Linked DNA regions of Homo sapiens: region 2 is linked to region 1. Evidence: fine-mapped expression QTL. Tissue or cell type: sun-exposed skin. Region 1 holds a variant in brackets; the other region holds the start of a gene. All regions are shown on one strand. Distances are between the middles of the regions.

What was found. PIP is the estimated chance that this variant, and not a neighbour inherited with it, causes the effect.
Region 2: it holds the start of OTUD7A, and the variant in region 1 is fine-mapped to the expression of OTUD7A in sun-exposed skin (GTEx, PIP above 0.99).

What each region holds. Positions count from the first base shown.
Region 1 is chr15:31,430,315-31,438,624 of GRCh38, reverse strand. It overlaps a transcript of KLF13 not described here. Among named protein-coding and RNA genes, the nearest start is that of KLF13, 110 kb to the right of the region's middle. RefSeq lists an enhancer at 3,258-3,777. The variant C/T (reference allele first, on the strand shown) is at 4,004.
Region 2 is chr15:31,866,910-31,874,909 of GRCh38, reverse strand. It overlaps OTUD7A (OTU deubiquitinase 7A), which reads left to right and starts at 4,237. Exons shown (of 13, transcript NM_001382637.1): 1 at 4,237-4,403. RefSeq lists silencers at 4,205-4,274, 6,770-7,064.

The DNA.
Region 1 (8,310 bases):
GGAGTCAGAAAGACCATGGGGACTTTCTTGAGCTCTCCGCTCTGGAAGCTCTAGCTTCTCTGACCTTGGAGTTATTGATGATCAGCTTGCTGCTGGGAGAGCTGGTCTGAGGAAGAAGCCTAAAAAGGGGGGAAACAGAATAGAATTGTGGAGAGAGAGAAAGAGAGAGAGAATACAGATCCAACTTGAGCTTCTAGAACCAACTGTGCCTGAAGCTATGACCCATTACACAGCCGATACGTGTCCTCTCTCTGTTTAAGCTAGCTTGAGCCATATCCTCAGTTATAAATGAAAAATTCCAATTACTAATTGGTCTTTGGTGCAAAGCCCAACACAGAATTCTCCTAAGCTAGGCTGACCCACTAGTAGCACTCCTTTGGTGAGGTCCCCTTTTCCCCTAAGGCCAACCTGTTAGTAAAAAAAGCAAGTTACCCGGCCTCTGTGTGGGAGCAGGAAGACACAGGCCCTTCTGCTGGGGGTGTGTCTATCCTGGCCCTTCCCTCTCATGCCCAGTCTTCCCATTTCCCTTCAAGCTCATGTCCTGTGGGCCCAGGGGTGGGGATGTGACAGAAATGAGGTGCTCCTAGGACCACTAGAGAGCCCCATCTCCTCTGACGTGGGGTGGCACAGGGGTCACTGAGTGAGCCTCCTCTGCCCCTCATGGGAGAGCTCCTCGTGACTCACTGCAGGGTTGGGTGCAATGGGGGACAGGGTTTGGGAAACAGAGACCTTCTCAAGTGAGCTCAGGCAGAGGGGGATTTCCTAGCAGGCCACAGGAGACCACGGCCCACCCACATGAGTGCTCTCGGGTCCTTGGGAGCGTGTGCAGCTTCTCTCTCCTGCACCTGCAGGGCCTGTTTCCTCTGGCCCCTTCTCCTCACATCCATTCTCTGCATGTGGGTTCTGCAGCCTGGTGGCCTGCCCTGGCTCGCCCTGGCCAGCAGCCTCAGCCCCCAGCCCGTGCAGATGTCATGTCCAAAGACCCGACCACAGAGCCCAAGGTCTAGCAGGTACAGCTGCCAGATAAAATGCAGAACATCCATGCAACATTTGGGATGTGCTTATACTAAACTCTTACTCAAATTTTTATTTGAAATTCAAATATAACTGGGTATCCTGTATTTTTATTTGCTAAGACCTGACAACACTCATGGGAGGAAGCCCCCGAGTGGGAAGAAAGGTTAAGGTAGAAAGGGAGATCCCAGGATTGCTTTCTGGGGTGCACGCCTCCCTGCACCCCACCCCACAGATATTTAGACTTTGAGGCAGGCCTTGGGCTGGCAGTGCCCCATCATCAATGGGGGAGCTGTAAGTGGCTGCGAGGGGAACCAGAGCAAACCCCAACATAAGGCATGGCAGAGAAGAGGCACCCTGCTGCTCCTCCACATTCCCAGTCACCTGTGAGGGCCTCCAGTGACCAGCATTCCAAGATCCTCTCCCCAGCCAGCAGCCACTACTGGCAGTGACTATGTGGAAGCTCCCAGTGCCCTTGGTGGGTATGAAACTGCTGGGGTCCATCTCTAACCTGGCCCAGTCTTTGCAGGGAAGGATGATAAATGGCCACTTGTCGCGCCCGTGCCCACACTTCATGAAAGTGTCCAGGGGATGGTCAGTCCACCTCAGATCGCCCTGGCAGTCAGGGCTGGCATTCCACACGTCTGGGGGGCAGCCTGAACTTTGAACACCCCACCCTCAGGGGTTACCTAGCTGACCCTGCAGCAGGGATCTAAGCCTGTGAGGATGGCAGCGAGTCCCTGAAGCCTGGTGACCTGAGCTCCGGAGCTCCGAGAGGATGGCTGGCTAGATATTTAGTTCTCTCTCCTATCTGTGGTAATGACTAGCAAAAGGGGGCTGGTCGGGTTCTTTCCAGGAAGGTAACATTGTCACACAGCATAGAGTAAAGGGACCCCACAACCTGCTGGGCAGTGCAGTAGCCCCAGGCCACACCTCTGTGAATGGAGCTTCCTGGTCTGGGACCCCAACTGGGGCGAGCGAGGGGTGAAGTGAGCAGTGCACAGCACATGGCATTCCCACATCCTGCACCCTCCCACCCACCCTTGCCTCACTCATGCCGGGCCCTGGGGGTGGGATGAACTGAGAGCCAGAAGTCCCACGTGAATGCAAAGCACTTCCACCCTGCTCACCTCCTACCACACCAAGTGCTGTGGTAAACACGCTCTCCCAGAGATGGGCCGAGCCACGGGCTGGGCATGGATTCTCACCATCATCTGCATTTAGAGGATACCAGGACACAGAGGGGCTGAGGGGCCCGGCTGCCACATGCACTCACATCCTCGGAGGCGTCACCCTGAGTTCCTCCTACTGGGACCCCAGAAACAAGTCATCCCCTAAGAAACCCCAGAGTCCCAGAGTGGTGCCTAGCTGCCTGGCCCTGTTCAGCTCTCACAGGTCCTGCCTACGATGGTGGAGGTGCTCCCTCCTTCCCTCCCTCCCTCCCTCCCTCCCTTTTTCCCCCGCCCTCCTTTCCTTCCTTATGGGCCAAGTGCATGTGCCTGCTCCACTGGGTGGAGCAGAGTGATCAGGACCCAAATTAAGGGACTCCTGGGGCCCTGCAGACATGACTCCTCCCGGCTCAGTGTTTGCCAAACTTAGACTATGATCCACTAAGGTTTGGACATAAGCTCAGTGGGCGGCGATTCCTAGAAAATAGGAGTGTATCACACGTAGGGTGAGTGTTTCATGAAAATGGCATAAGTTATACACATACATGAATAAATGTACATACATCTGTACATGCATGAATACAGCAACTATGAATGTATACTTTAATTTTCTGTAGAGATGGGGGATGAGTGTAGGGTGAATGTGTCTCGCATAAGGGTGAGTGTTTTTGTGAAATTGGTGCCAGTTTTAGATATCTGTACACGCCTGTGCATACACATGCATGTGGGGGTGCCGTGGAGATTGCATCATCTCCTGTGGGTCACAGCCAAAGACGTCTGAGCAACTCTCTTTTATTCTGTTTACTTCAAGAGAAAGAAAAAGTAACAAGCCAAAAGCCCCTGGGCTTCTCAGGAAACAGGCTGAGGGACACTTTCAGCACAGGATCGGAAGGTCTGGGGGTGGAGACACATCCTTTGCCCGCCACAGACACTGGAGGGCGTGTCGACATTGCCTGCAGATGTCCAGGAAAGAGCTTGGACCCTAGGGGGCGGAAAACCGTGGGTCTGTGACCTTGACAAGCTCTCCAGCCTCCCGGATCACCTTCCTTGTCTTCCTTGTCTTCTTTGTCACCTGTAAAAGATCGAGAGCCTCTTGAGGCCGTTTTGAGATTAAACACACCACCTGCGAAGGGTCCTAAGCATGACCCTAGCGAGACCCTTCTCCTAGTCATTCTCACAACCAAAGGTTTTCAGCTTGAAGAGAAAGCCCGAGCTGTCCCCAGTGTCCCTTACTGTGACAAAGGCCCCTCGGAACAGCCCCGCCCCCACAGCCTACAACACATTGAAAGGACAAAACATAGACAAAACTTAAAAGAAGTAAAAACACACACGTTGCACCCGCCCCGTCCCTTAGCGTGCATAAGATATACACAGGAAGGAAGTGGCCAGGGTGATTCAAGGAGGCTGAGCTGCGACGGCTCAAGGAAAGGAATATTTCTGACAAGTCCGCCTTGACTGTGGTTTTGAACATGATTTCAGCCCTAGTTTTGGCCAGTCCCCCGGCCCCCGCCAGCACTTGTGTCTGCAGTCTAGACACAGCAGCAAAGGGGGACACCCATGCAGGAAGGCGCCCAGTGGGCTGCCCCATGGCCTTGGGGTTGGAACCAGGGCAGGATGAGCAAAAGCTGCTGCGCGCCGGCATTGACGGGGGGCTGTGGCTGGGGCAGGGAGGCGTGGGCTGCTGCCCAATCCACAGGGCTGAGGATGAAGGGGAGCTCCAAGAAGCCTGCTTCCCAGTATTTTCCCAGCTACTGACTCACAAACAAACCTGTTTTTGATTTCTGCTCTTAACCCGCTTCAGGCCCTAGCAGGTCCAGCCC[C/T]GTGGAACCAGGGAGCTCCAGACACGTCATTCTCAAACTCAAAAGTCCCTTCCACGCCCCTGAGATAGCAAAGACCCAGTTCCAAGCCTCTCCCACCTCCATCCACAGCCTCTCCTGCTTTCCAAGCCTTTCCACACCCCAACTCTGGCTCAACTGGGGGCAAGCACCTGATTCGAACCTCCCTTGGGGGGTACTGTTGGTTCCCGGCCCTTCTTCCCAGTCCTCTATAAAAGGCCTGCCCATCCCCAGAGCCAGCTCAATGCCACCTCCTCTGTGCACCTTCCTGGCTCTCCAACTGGCAAGTCTCTCTCCTGCTGCCACTGATCCTGCATTTTACTGTGTGGGCAGCTGTATGTCCAGCTGTGTGCAGCTGTGTGAACCTGAGCAAGTCACTTACCTCTCTGAGCCTCATTTCCCCATCCGTAGAATGGGGATATTGAGAGTTGTCTGCTGAGATGAAGTAACGGACGCGAAGCAACGAGCCTGGCACACAGTCTTGGCACCAGCATTGTACCACCAGTGGCAATGATGGCAGGCCTCTTACCCTCCACTAGGTGGGAATCTCTCTGGGGTAGGACTTGGCTGTTCTCTCTCCATCTTCTCTTAGTTCTAAAAAGATTTCCTACATCTGGCAGGTGCTCAAAAAAGAAATGTGAGGGGTGGTGTCTCCTGGTGGTCTGGGGCCAGAAGATTCTTCACATGGCGAGGGCAGATAAGACCCTGAGCTAGGCAAACCACACCTTTTGCAGGAGGGGCAAGAGCGGCTGTGGGGCAGCTGTGGCCTCGGCTGCCAGGGACTGGCGTGGGACTGATGTCCCTTGCATGGAGCCTGAGTGGCCAGTCAGTGTCAGCCCACACAGGGGCACCACTGCTTCCAGACCAAGGGCTCAGGGAGACCTCACAGGGCTGGGCTCTCAGGGCAGAGGTATCTTTGAGATGACATTCCCTGGGGCCCACAAAGGTGCCATAGTCTGAGCCCACAGGCTGGACGGGCATCCTAGCCCATAGCCTTCAGTAGAACGGGAGGTGGGAAACAGGTGAGTTCTTCAACAGTCCTGGCTCACTGCCCTGATCGCATGTACAGGGTGCAGAGCACACAGGGACTGGGGAAGGGGGGGACCCTGGTGGAAGAGAGTGGACTCCCTGAGAGAAGGGAACACAGCTGACAGCCCAGGGAGACCAAGGTGGCTAGGGTTTTTAGGACAGAGGACCTAAACAGAGAGAGCTGGCAAAACACAGCCCTGGACATCTGCAAAGGGACTCCTCGGTTATTCACCTCATGTGTGTGGAGAAACTGCCTGGGGCCAGGGAAAAGCCACCGCATGGAAGTAAAGAACAGCAGCTGGAGCTCCCAGGGGGCTCCCACCAGCCAGAACGCATAACTCCTGATTCACTGGCCATTGGGCACAGTACTCAGTGGGTAGCCTAAACTCAGCCCTGGACTAAGCACTGCTCCACGCCCACCTAACAAATCATAAAAGCAAGACCCAACAAGATCAAACAGTTTCTCAGTAGCTTCATTGTATCTCAGAAAAAAAGCTCAAGATTATTTATGTGTTTATTTTTCTGCTTTGTTTTGAGGCAGAGTCTCGCTCTGTCGCCCAGGCTGGAGTGCAGTGGGCGCTGGAATCAGGCATGTGCCACCATTCCAGCTAATTTTTGTATTTTTAGTAGAGATGGGGTTTCACCATGTTGGCCAGGCTGGTCTTGAACTCCTGGCCTCAAGTTATCCGCCTGCCTCGGCCTCCCAAAGTGTTGGGATTACAGGCATGAGCTACCGCACCCAGCCTAAGATTATTTATAATAATACAAAAATATCCAGCATCCAGCATGGTAAAATTCACAATATCCAGCTTCAAATGGAAATGACCAGGCCAGGTGCAGTGGCTCATGCCTGTAATGCCAGCACTTTGGGAAGTTAAGGCAAGAGGATCGCTTGAGTCCAGGAGTTCAAGACTAGCCTGGGCAACAAAGCAAGGCCCCATCTCTACAAAAAAAATTAAAAGTTAGCTGGGTGTGGTGGTGCATGCCTATAGTCCCAGCTACTCAGGAAGCTGAGGCAGGGGGATATCTTGAGCCCAGGAGACTGAGGCTCCAGTGAGCGGTGATCACACCACTGCACTCCAGCCTGGGCAACGGAGTAAGACCTTATTTTAAAAAAAAAAAAAAGGAAAGAAAGAGAGAACAAGAAAGAAAGCAAGAAAAGGGAGGAATCAAGAAAAGGGAGGGAGGGAGGGAGGGAAGGAGACAGAGAAAGAAAATGACCAGGTATAGGAGAAGGTGTGGCCCGGTTGGCTGGTATGGAACCTTCTACGGAGGGCAGAGGCCATGTCTAGATAGGAAAACAGGGAGCAGAGAGAGGCGGTCAGGAAGGAGCCCCCTTTCCAGTGCAAGAGCTCCAGGAAAAAAAATTCTCAACTTCACTTCCCCTTCCAGCAACCTTCCTTTTTCAGCAAAACGACCTGAAAGTTTTGTAAGTGCTCTGATTTCTCTCCTCCTTTCTCTCTAGTCTTCCTCCTTATTGTGAAATATAACATACATCCAGAAAAATGTTTAAAATGCAAATGTTCAACTTAGCAAGTTGTTGTAAAGCAAACACCTGTGTAGCCACCACTTGCATCCATCTGTATCCCACCTCCTCCATCCCCGTGCCCTTCCCCAGATCTCTGCCACCTGGCATTCCCAGTCAACACTTCCTTCCTTCCGTTGCTTTAGAGTTGACCACATAAGCAAGCGTCCCTAAATGATAAGGTCGCATCCGCAAGTCTTCGCAGGGTATAGAAATTGAATCGTGCAGTGTTTGCATGGTTTGAGATCTGGCTTCTTTCTCTCAAGATTATGCTTTTAAGATTTGGCCAGGCTGGGCGCGGTGGCTCACGCCTGTAATCCCAGCACTTTGGGAGGCCGAGGCGGGAGGATCACAAGGTCAGGAGATAGCGACCATCCTGGCTAACACGGTGAAAACCCATCTCTACTAAAAATACAAAAAATTAGCCGGACATGATGACGGGTGCCTGTAGTCCCAGCTACTCAGGAAGCTGATGCAGGAGAATCGCTTGAACCTGGGAGGCGGAGGTTGCAGTGAGCCGAGAGCACGCCACTGCACTCCATCCTGGGCGACAGAGGGAGACTCTGTCTAAAAAAAAAAATTTAACCATGTTGCTGTAGGCATTTGCAATTCATTTTTGCTGCAGCATAAAATCCATTATATGAATATACATTTTTTAGTCCATCCTACTGTTGGTGGACATTTCTGTTGTTTCCATTTGAGAGCTGTCTTAGTCAGTGTGGGCTGAGATAATAAAAAATAATAATACCACACACTGGATGGCTTAAACAACAAGCACTTATTTTTCACAGTTCTGGAGGCTGTAAGTCTGAGATCAAGGTGCCAGGATAGTTGGGTTCTCGGTGAGGGCTCGCTTCCAGGTTGTAGACTGCCATCTTCTCATTGTGTCCACACATGGTGGAGTGAGAGAAAGAGGCAGCAAGCTCTTTTGTGTCTCTTTTTTTAAGGTCACTAACTCCACCTGAGAGGTCCACCCGTATGACCTAATCATCTGCTGCATGCCCCATCTCCAAATACCATCACCTTGGGGGTTAGAATTTCAACGTATGAATTGGGGTGGTGCATATATACTCAGTCCGTAGCAGGGGCTATGATGAATTGGAGGCTCATGAGTGTACTTGTCTTCAGCTTTAGTGGATACTGTTACATCCTCCTCCAAAGAATGGAGATTCTACCACCAGCAGTGTTCTGAGTGCCTATGACTTCAAGGTCTCACCAATACTTGGCACTGTCAGACTTTCAGAATATGGAATGATCTCATTGTGATTTGAATTTACATGATTAAGGAACATTTACATGTTTATTGGCCATTTAGATATCTTCTCTTTCAACTTGTTGAAACATTTTGTCCATTGCTAACCTTTGAATGTGTCCCCTAGAAAGTATATGTTGGAAATTTAATCCCCAAAGCAACAGTGTTGAGAGGTGGGGCCTTAAGGAGAGGTGGTTAGGCCACGAGGGCAGAGTGAATGAATTTGTGCCATTATCATGGAAGTGGGTTTGTTTTCAAGGGTATTTTACTCTCTACCTCACCCTCTCTTTGCCCTTCCACCATGTGATGCCTTCCAACATGTCGTGATGCAGCAAGAAGACCCTTGCCAGATGCCGGCCCTTTAATCTTGACTTACCAGCCTCCAGAACTGTAGGAAAATTAATTTCTGTTCTTTATAAATTACCCAATCCTTGGTGTACTGTGATAGCAGCATGACACAGACTAAGACACCCATTTTTTCCCCTT
Region 2 (8,000 bases), 440 kb before region 1:
CTCTTATAAGATATCTACGTTACATGTGAAACAATACCATGATTTGAAGGTGAACACACATTAGTAAAAGAAGAAAATCTATATTAGAAACTCTAGGCTGGACATGATGGCTCAGACCTGTAATCCCAGCACTTTGGGAGGCCAAGGCAGGCAGATTGCTTGAGCTAACGAGCTTGAGACCAGCCTGGACAACATGGTGAAATCCTGTCTCTACAAAAATTGCAAAGATTAGCTGGGCATGGTAAGCTACTCAGGGGGCTAAGCTGGGAGGATGGCTTGAACCCAGGAGGCAGAGGATGCAGTGAGCCGAGATGGCACCACCGCACTCCAGCCTAGGCAATAGAGCCAGACTTTGTCTTAAAAAAAAAGCAAAGCAAAGAAAAAAGAAACTCTAGAATGGCCACTAAAAAATTCTTTAAAAAGTATAATTGATACTCTTTAAGAGAAGATAAAATAGAACCACACAAAATGCTCAATTAAAATCGGAGAAGGCAGAAAAAGCCGCCACTGGCAACCAGTAGGAAACAGTTACAAATATGATTGATATTCATCCAAATAGATCAACAATTGTGTTAAATGTGAATGGTCTAAATACACCAATTAAAAGACACAGATTGCTAGAGTAGATAACAAAACAAGACCCCACTATATCTTGTTGACATTAAATATAAAGTATCTGTTTGGTTAAAAGTAAAGGGATGAAGAAAGATATACCATGTTAACCCTGATCAAAAGAAAACTGGAGTAGCTGCATTAATTTCAGATAAAAGGGACTTGAGAAAAAGGAAAATTATCAGGGATGTGAGGGGAGGGATAGGTAAGAAACTCATAATCATAAAGGGGCTAATTCTCCAAGAATACATAATAACCCTAAATATGCATGTGCCTAAGAATAAAATGTCAAAATAAGTGAGGAAAAAATGATAAACCTGAAAGAAAAAATGGTCCAATCCACTATCATAGGATACTTCAACATTTCTCTATCCATGATTGATAAGATCAGATAGGCAAAAAATCGGTGAGGATATAATTGACCTAAACAGCATTATCAACTTTATTTAATTGATATTTGTAGATCTAGCAATAGCACAATACACATTCTTCTCAAGCTGGCATGGAATAATCACCAACATTGGCCACATTCTGATCTATAAAACACACCTTATCAAATTAAAGAAAAATAGAAATTAAACAAAGTATGTCTTCATACCACAATGGAAGTAACCTAGAAATCAAGAACAGAATGATAGCTGGAAAGTCCCAAATTATTGGAAACTAAACAACACATTTTTAAAAAACATTTGGGTCAAAGAGGAATCTCAAGAATAACTAAAAACATTGATCTAAATAAAAATTAAAGTACAACTTTTCTAAATTTGTGGGATGCAGTAAAAGCGGGGATATTTATAGCAGTAAATGTATACATTTGAAAAGAAGAAAAATCTAAAATCAACAACCTAAATTGTCACCTTGGATAATAGAGAAAGAAGAGCAATTTAAGCCTAAAACAAGCAGAACAAAGAGGAATAATAAAAATTAGAGAATGAAATTGAAAATAGAAAACAATAGAAAAAAATCAACAAAACAAAGAAAAAGCTGAAAAGATGATTAAAATTAATAAACCTGTCCAGGTTAACCAAGAAAAAAAGACATTGGGCATAGTTTGCCAATATCAAAAAATGAAAGAGGCGTCATCTCTACTAATTTCATAGATGTTAAAAGAATAATAAAGGTTTATGATGAACAACTTTACACCCACAAGTTTGAATATTAGATAAAAAGGACCGATTCCTTGAATGATACAACTACATTTTACAGAAAAGCAAACAGATCACCTAATAGCTCTGTATCCACAAAGAATCAATAATTAATGAAGTCTCAAAAAAATCACCAGATTCAGATGGTTTCACCAGGGAATTTTACCAAACATTTATGGAAGAATTGATATAGGTTCTTTACAATTTCTTACAGAAAATACAAGTAAATATTACTTCTTAACTCATTTTATGAGGCCAGCATTACCGGCATACCAAAATAAATTAAAGACATTACAAAAAAGAAAACTATAGCCAAATATTTCTCATGAACATAGATGCAAAAGTCTTCAACAAAATATTAGCATATTGAATACAATGGTGTATAAAAACAATTATATACCATGCCCAAGTAGAATTTGACCCAAGTATGCAAGACCGGTTCCTTGAAAATCAATTGAAAATCAATGTAACCCATCATATCAACAAGCTAAAGAAAATAAAATCACATGACCGTATCAATAGATGCAGAAAACGAATTTGGCAAAATCCAACATTCATTCATGATAAAAACTCTGCAAACTAGGAATAGAGAGAACTTCCTAATCTTGATAAAGAAGAACTAAAAAAATCCTACTGCTAACATCATATTTAGTGGTAAGAAACTGGATACTTCCCCTAAATTCAGGACAGGACTGTTAAGAGAATGAAAAGACAAGCTTCCACTGGAAGAAAATACCTGCAAAACACGTATCAGATAAAGTACTTCTATCCAAAATACACAAAGAACTCTTAAAACTCAACCATAAGAAAACAACCTTTTTTTTTTAATGGGCAAAAGATGTGAACAAACATCTCACCAAAGAAGATATACAGGTGCATATGAAAAGTTGCTCCACATAATTTTTCAGTAGAAAATTGAAAATTAACAACGATATAGCACTATATGCCTACTAGAATGTCTAAAATTATAGATGATAGACGGATGGATGGATGGATGGACAGATAGATAGATAAAGATAGCCAATATCAAGTGCTGGTGAGGATGAAGGAAAGGGATTCATATTTGCTGACAGTTATAAAAATGCTATAGCCACTCTAGAAAACTGTTTGGTTCTTATAAAGTTAAACAAATTTACCATAAGATCTAGCAATTGCACTCCTAGATATTTAGTCAACTAATTTAAAAAATTTGTCCGTACAAAACGCTGCATGCAAATGTTTATAGAATGTTTATTCACAGTCGCCAAAAACTGGAAACCACGCAAATATTCTCCAGTGGGTGACTAAACAAAATGTGGTACAAATAATGAGACTCCCCTCAACAATAAAAAGGACTATTACTATACACAATAACATGGATGAATCTCCAAGGTATAATGATGAGGGAATAAAGTCAGTTTCAAAATGTTACATATTGCGTAATTCCATGTATACGACACACTCACAAAGACAAAACCGTAGCAATGGAGAACCTATCAGTGGTTACCAAAAGTTAGGGTTGGCGGGGGCGCTGTTATAAAAGGGCAGAACTAGGGAGCTCTTTATTGCGCTAGTGGTTACATGAATCCAAACAAGGGTTCAAGATCACAGGATTATATATCAAATAACCAATTTTACTGAATATCAATTTTAAAAGTCAAATAAATTATTAAACACTATTAAACATATACAATGTTTAAAGTCAAGCAAAAAGTCCTAAACTAAAAGTAAAATAATGATTGTTTAGAAGTACACCAGGATGGTATGGGTCATCTGCAATATAACGTCCTGTTTGGGATAAGGAAGCGTGACTACATCTACAGGGTGACGTGAGAAGGGCCCAGAGCAGCGAGCAGGTCTTGCCATCAGGGAGGGGAACCATCTGAAGGGGTGGCGTGAAAAAGTCTTTAGAGGAAGGCAAAAAATGGGAAAAGGTCAGAGAACCTTTTTGGGAGGTAAAAGGACCAGCTTTGGATTAGGCGTGATGCACAGGCCCCAGCGCAGGGCGTAGAAACTGCAGCCTGGACAGCCTGGGTGGGAGAAAGTTTGGGATGTTTAGGAAGGAAGGGTGCGCCAGCCAGGGGGAAGAAACGAGACAGGTGGCCGCAGATGGCGCGAGTCAGGCAGCAGGAAAAGGCAGGCTGTTTAAGCAGCCTTTTCCTGCAGTCCAGGCGGAGAGCGCAGAAGGAGCACCCCGAGGGGCAAGCATGGGAGAGCCGGAGCGGGCTCGCGGGCGCGCGGGCGCTGTACGTCCCCTCCTCGGCTCGCGGCCGCGAGCACGCGCTCTCCGTGCCCGGCCCCGGAGGGGCGGGGGCGGGGCACAGGCGCGGCGCGCGCACGTCCGCGCGGGGCGGGGGCGGGGCGCGAACGCGACCGGTGACGTCAGAGGAGGGCGCGCGCCCGGAGGCAGCAGGCGGAGCCGGGAGGCGGGCGTTGTGCGCGGCCGCGGGCGGAGCGGAGGGGCGCGAGGGGCGGAGCGGAGCGCGGGAGGAGGCGGGGGAGGAGAGGCCACCGGGACCGCGAGCGGCAGCTGGGGAGGGGGCCGCGGAGCCCGAGCGGGAGCAAAACAGCTGATCTGGTTTTCCTTTAAAGCGAGAGAAAATGGAAGTCGGGTAGCGGCGACTGCGGCGCTGCGGGCTGGCGGAGCGGAGCGGCGCGGCGCGGCAGGTAAGACGGCGCTGGCCGCGGTGCTGCCGGCGGGCGGCGGGGCCGGGCCCGCGGACCAGGCAGGTGCGCTCTCCGGGCGCGGGGCCGGCGCCGTCTCCTTCCCGAGCTCCGTGGCGAGGCAGGTGGGCGTTGAGGCCGGGCGACCGCGGGGCCGGGGCGCGGGGACGCGGGGGGCGCGGGCCCCGGCTGGGCTCGCCGGCGCGTCTGCATTGCGGGCTCCGCTCCGGACCCCGCGGGCTCCCGGGCCACCGGCTCCGGCCCGGCGTGGCGCGCCTCTCTCGGGCAGGGCGCGGCGCTACCGCTGGGTCGGGGCTGCTGCCTCCGCTCAGCCCTTTGGCTGTCCGCACTGGAACGTGATGCCAGGCGTGGGGCGACCGACCCCTCGGTCCGTGCGCGCGCGTCGGGGGTCCCGCGGCTCTTGCAGACGGCCGGGCAGGGCCCGGCCCCGAGCCGCGCGCGAGGCCGCTCGCCGGGCACCGGAGCTGTGACTGCGTGGGTCCCCGCGGCCCGGCGCACCGCCGTCCCGCTCGCTCTGCTGGGTCTCGCTGGACAGCAGGCAAACCATTAAGGCAATTTGGCTGTGAACCCAGAGGCCTTCCCTAGTATCTCCTCACTGGAGGGGAAAAAATTGCATCTGCGGTGCTTTAAGTGCTCCTTTAAATTTGGGAGATGTCAGTGATGTCATCATTAACTAAAACTTTCCTTCATTGGACACAACCGCTCAAGTGTACCCTCCTCCCTCCCGGTGAAGCTATTGCAGCCCTTTGAGAATCTCTGTAATAAAATGGATTTGCCTCTGCTCTGTAAACTCAGCTACCTCACACAAGTGCAAATGACTTTTATTTCTGTCTATTGGCTTGAGAATGTATAGATTTAAGAGTAGCTGAAGGGAAACTTGTGAGACCCCGATCAGGGAAACGCTTCATCCACAGCACAAGGATCCAGGGGAAAGTCATGTATGACATGCACATGGTTACCGCCAGGTGATACCTTTGTAAATGGAAGTGGGCTGTAAGAGGAACAATTTTTAAAAATATGATGAGGCAGATAATGTGTCCAGGAAAAGGTTGACAGCGGGGCCTAAATCTTTACAGGTCTTAATTGCTTCAGGAAAATCTGCAGGTGTCCTTCACCATCCTCCTCCTCCTCCTCCAGGGTGTGCCCGGAGAAGCCTGCCCTGGGCGAAGGCGGGGAGGCAGGTTCACTAGGGTCCTCCCAGCAGCCGTGTGTCCCACCAGCTTCAAAGGCCTCTTCAAGACCCAAAGAGGGTTCACGAGAACAGAGGTAGATCTGCACGGCACACTCAGTTCTGGATAAACATTCCCCACTAAATGGGATCAACACTCCATTATTTTATTGTGAGTGTGCCATTAGTACCAATTCTTATGGGAACAAAACTAAGCAAGTTCCCAAGGCAATCTGAGTATCTACTCAAGCCTATCATATCGAAAGGATATCCAATAAGGGACAAAAGTATTGACATTTTTGTATTTAATAATTAATGACACCTCCTAATTGGTTAAAATAAGCATGCCTTAAATTGTTAGTGTGATTTTATTGGATCTGTAAGGAATTTAATACCATATGCCACTCAAAAGTTGGGACCTGGTTAGGAACTTCAATCTCTTGAACCCTGTATTGGTGTGAAAAGAATGGGAAAACAGTGGTTACTTAGGCCTTTAGTGTTCAGGCTGATAATGGGTGGAAATCGCCGCTTTACGAAGTATTGCCACGTGCGGGTCTCACTTGGGCCTGGATCATAGATGGCAGGTTTTCCCTTAGAAAGTAACTCCTGAGGCCCCCAAGCTTGGTGGAGAAGGAGAGGGGACACCTTTCTCTGAGCAAGTGTGTGTAATTCTTGGCCTCTGACCTCCTGATGGTGCCGCATTTATTCCCAATGGTGTGCCTAAGTGAGATGAGAAACTGGCTCCAAGTGAGCTGCTTTTGGATGACACTGCTCCCGCTGTGTGTAGTTGCTGTAGAACTTAACTCTTGAGTTGTGGCAGAGATTCTTCTTTACAACATGTCCTCAATAGTATGAAGATTGGTTTTTCAGGGTCTGCATTGCAAACTCTTTGAAAATGGAGTCTGTGAAATCAATCTGGCCCCGTATCCATCTTTTTGTTTTCACCTGTAGACTCGTGAAAATATTCACCACGTTTATGGTTTAACTCGCTGTAGTACTAGTAAAACTTCAAACGGAAGTGTTTCCACTAAATCTTTAGGTATGGGTCACTTATTTCCCCAAAACATTTTAAAACAACCGCTTTAAAGCCTCTTCATCCCGCTTGTATGTTTAGAGTGCTTAAATTTGGGAGTTGTCAGTGATTTCCCAAAAGAGATCACTGTCACATCTTCCGTTTCTAAGAAGTAAAAATTGCCCTGATTTTCTTTCTGTTCCCTTTGGGATATTAAGGTCATTTATTCATGCCTTAGGCCCACGGAAGAAAGGTTGAATTAGCTCTTGTGGGCCAGCAGGGGGCGTGCTAAACGCGGCTTGGCGGGCCTGTGTCAGAGCCACCTTGGGAGTGGATCTCCAAGTTGAGGTGGGTGCATGTGTGTGCGCCGGTGTGCTCCGCCCCCGCCCCCCGCCCCTCCCCCTCCGCTCCCGCATGCCTGTCTTCCAAGAGATGGAAACTTAAGGAAGGGTTGGGGGCACATACTTGAATGACCAGAGGTTGTGGAGTCTGGAATGTAGGCCTCCCTAGCAGAGATTGCTTCAGTGGCTCCATGTCTTTGGAAGGTGGCTCTTAGCACACTTTGAGTCTCAGGATTGAGTGCCTTCTCAGACTGCGGAAGTGAGTGTTAGTTTGGAGAGGAGAAAGTTGACTTCAGTGAACTACAGGCTGGTGTCCTGGTCATGGCGTGAATGTGCCAGCCAGGGCAACCCCGTGGAAATCCTCTCCTGCACACCCTTGATGTTTGCTCCTGGCTTTGACTCCCGATTGACTTAGGCCCTGGGACCCTGTGTGGTAGTACTTCCCAGAGGGGCCTATTTGACCCCTTGCACTGAATTATAGGTGGCGGATGTCCACTTAGGAAGTAATTCCTGTGGCCCCCAAGCCTGGTGGAGGAGGGAAGGGGCACTTTGCTCTGAGCAAGCTGTGTGCAAGTCATGGCCTCTGACCTTCTGATGGTGCCACATTTATTTCCATGACGTGCCTAAATGAGATGGGAAGGGCTCTTGGCCTCAAAATTTCTCTGATGAAAAACGTTTCGTTACTGTGCTTTTATTTTTCCCTATAAAATGAAAACAAGAAAAAGCAACTGTGCTTTTTCACTTAAAATGTGCTTTATCTGATTTTAAGTGTGTGCCAGGTTATTCAACCACATGTTCCCTGGGAGACTTTTCCTCGCAGGGACTGAACTCAGAGAGGCCAGCTTGTGCTCCAGGGCTATTTTGGTGAGTTGGGATGGGTGTTTCCCATGCTTAGATGGTCATTGCAGCATCTGGGTGTGTTACTGAAGACCAAAGACTCCTCTCTCCTACTGAGGTTCCTCATGGAGGCCCCATGCGAAAGGGAACATCACACTTTAAAAGGAAAGAAGTTTCACAGATGCCCTACTAGAGAACTAGCCCAGTGCTATGACTGGGCA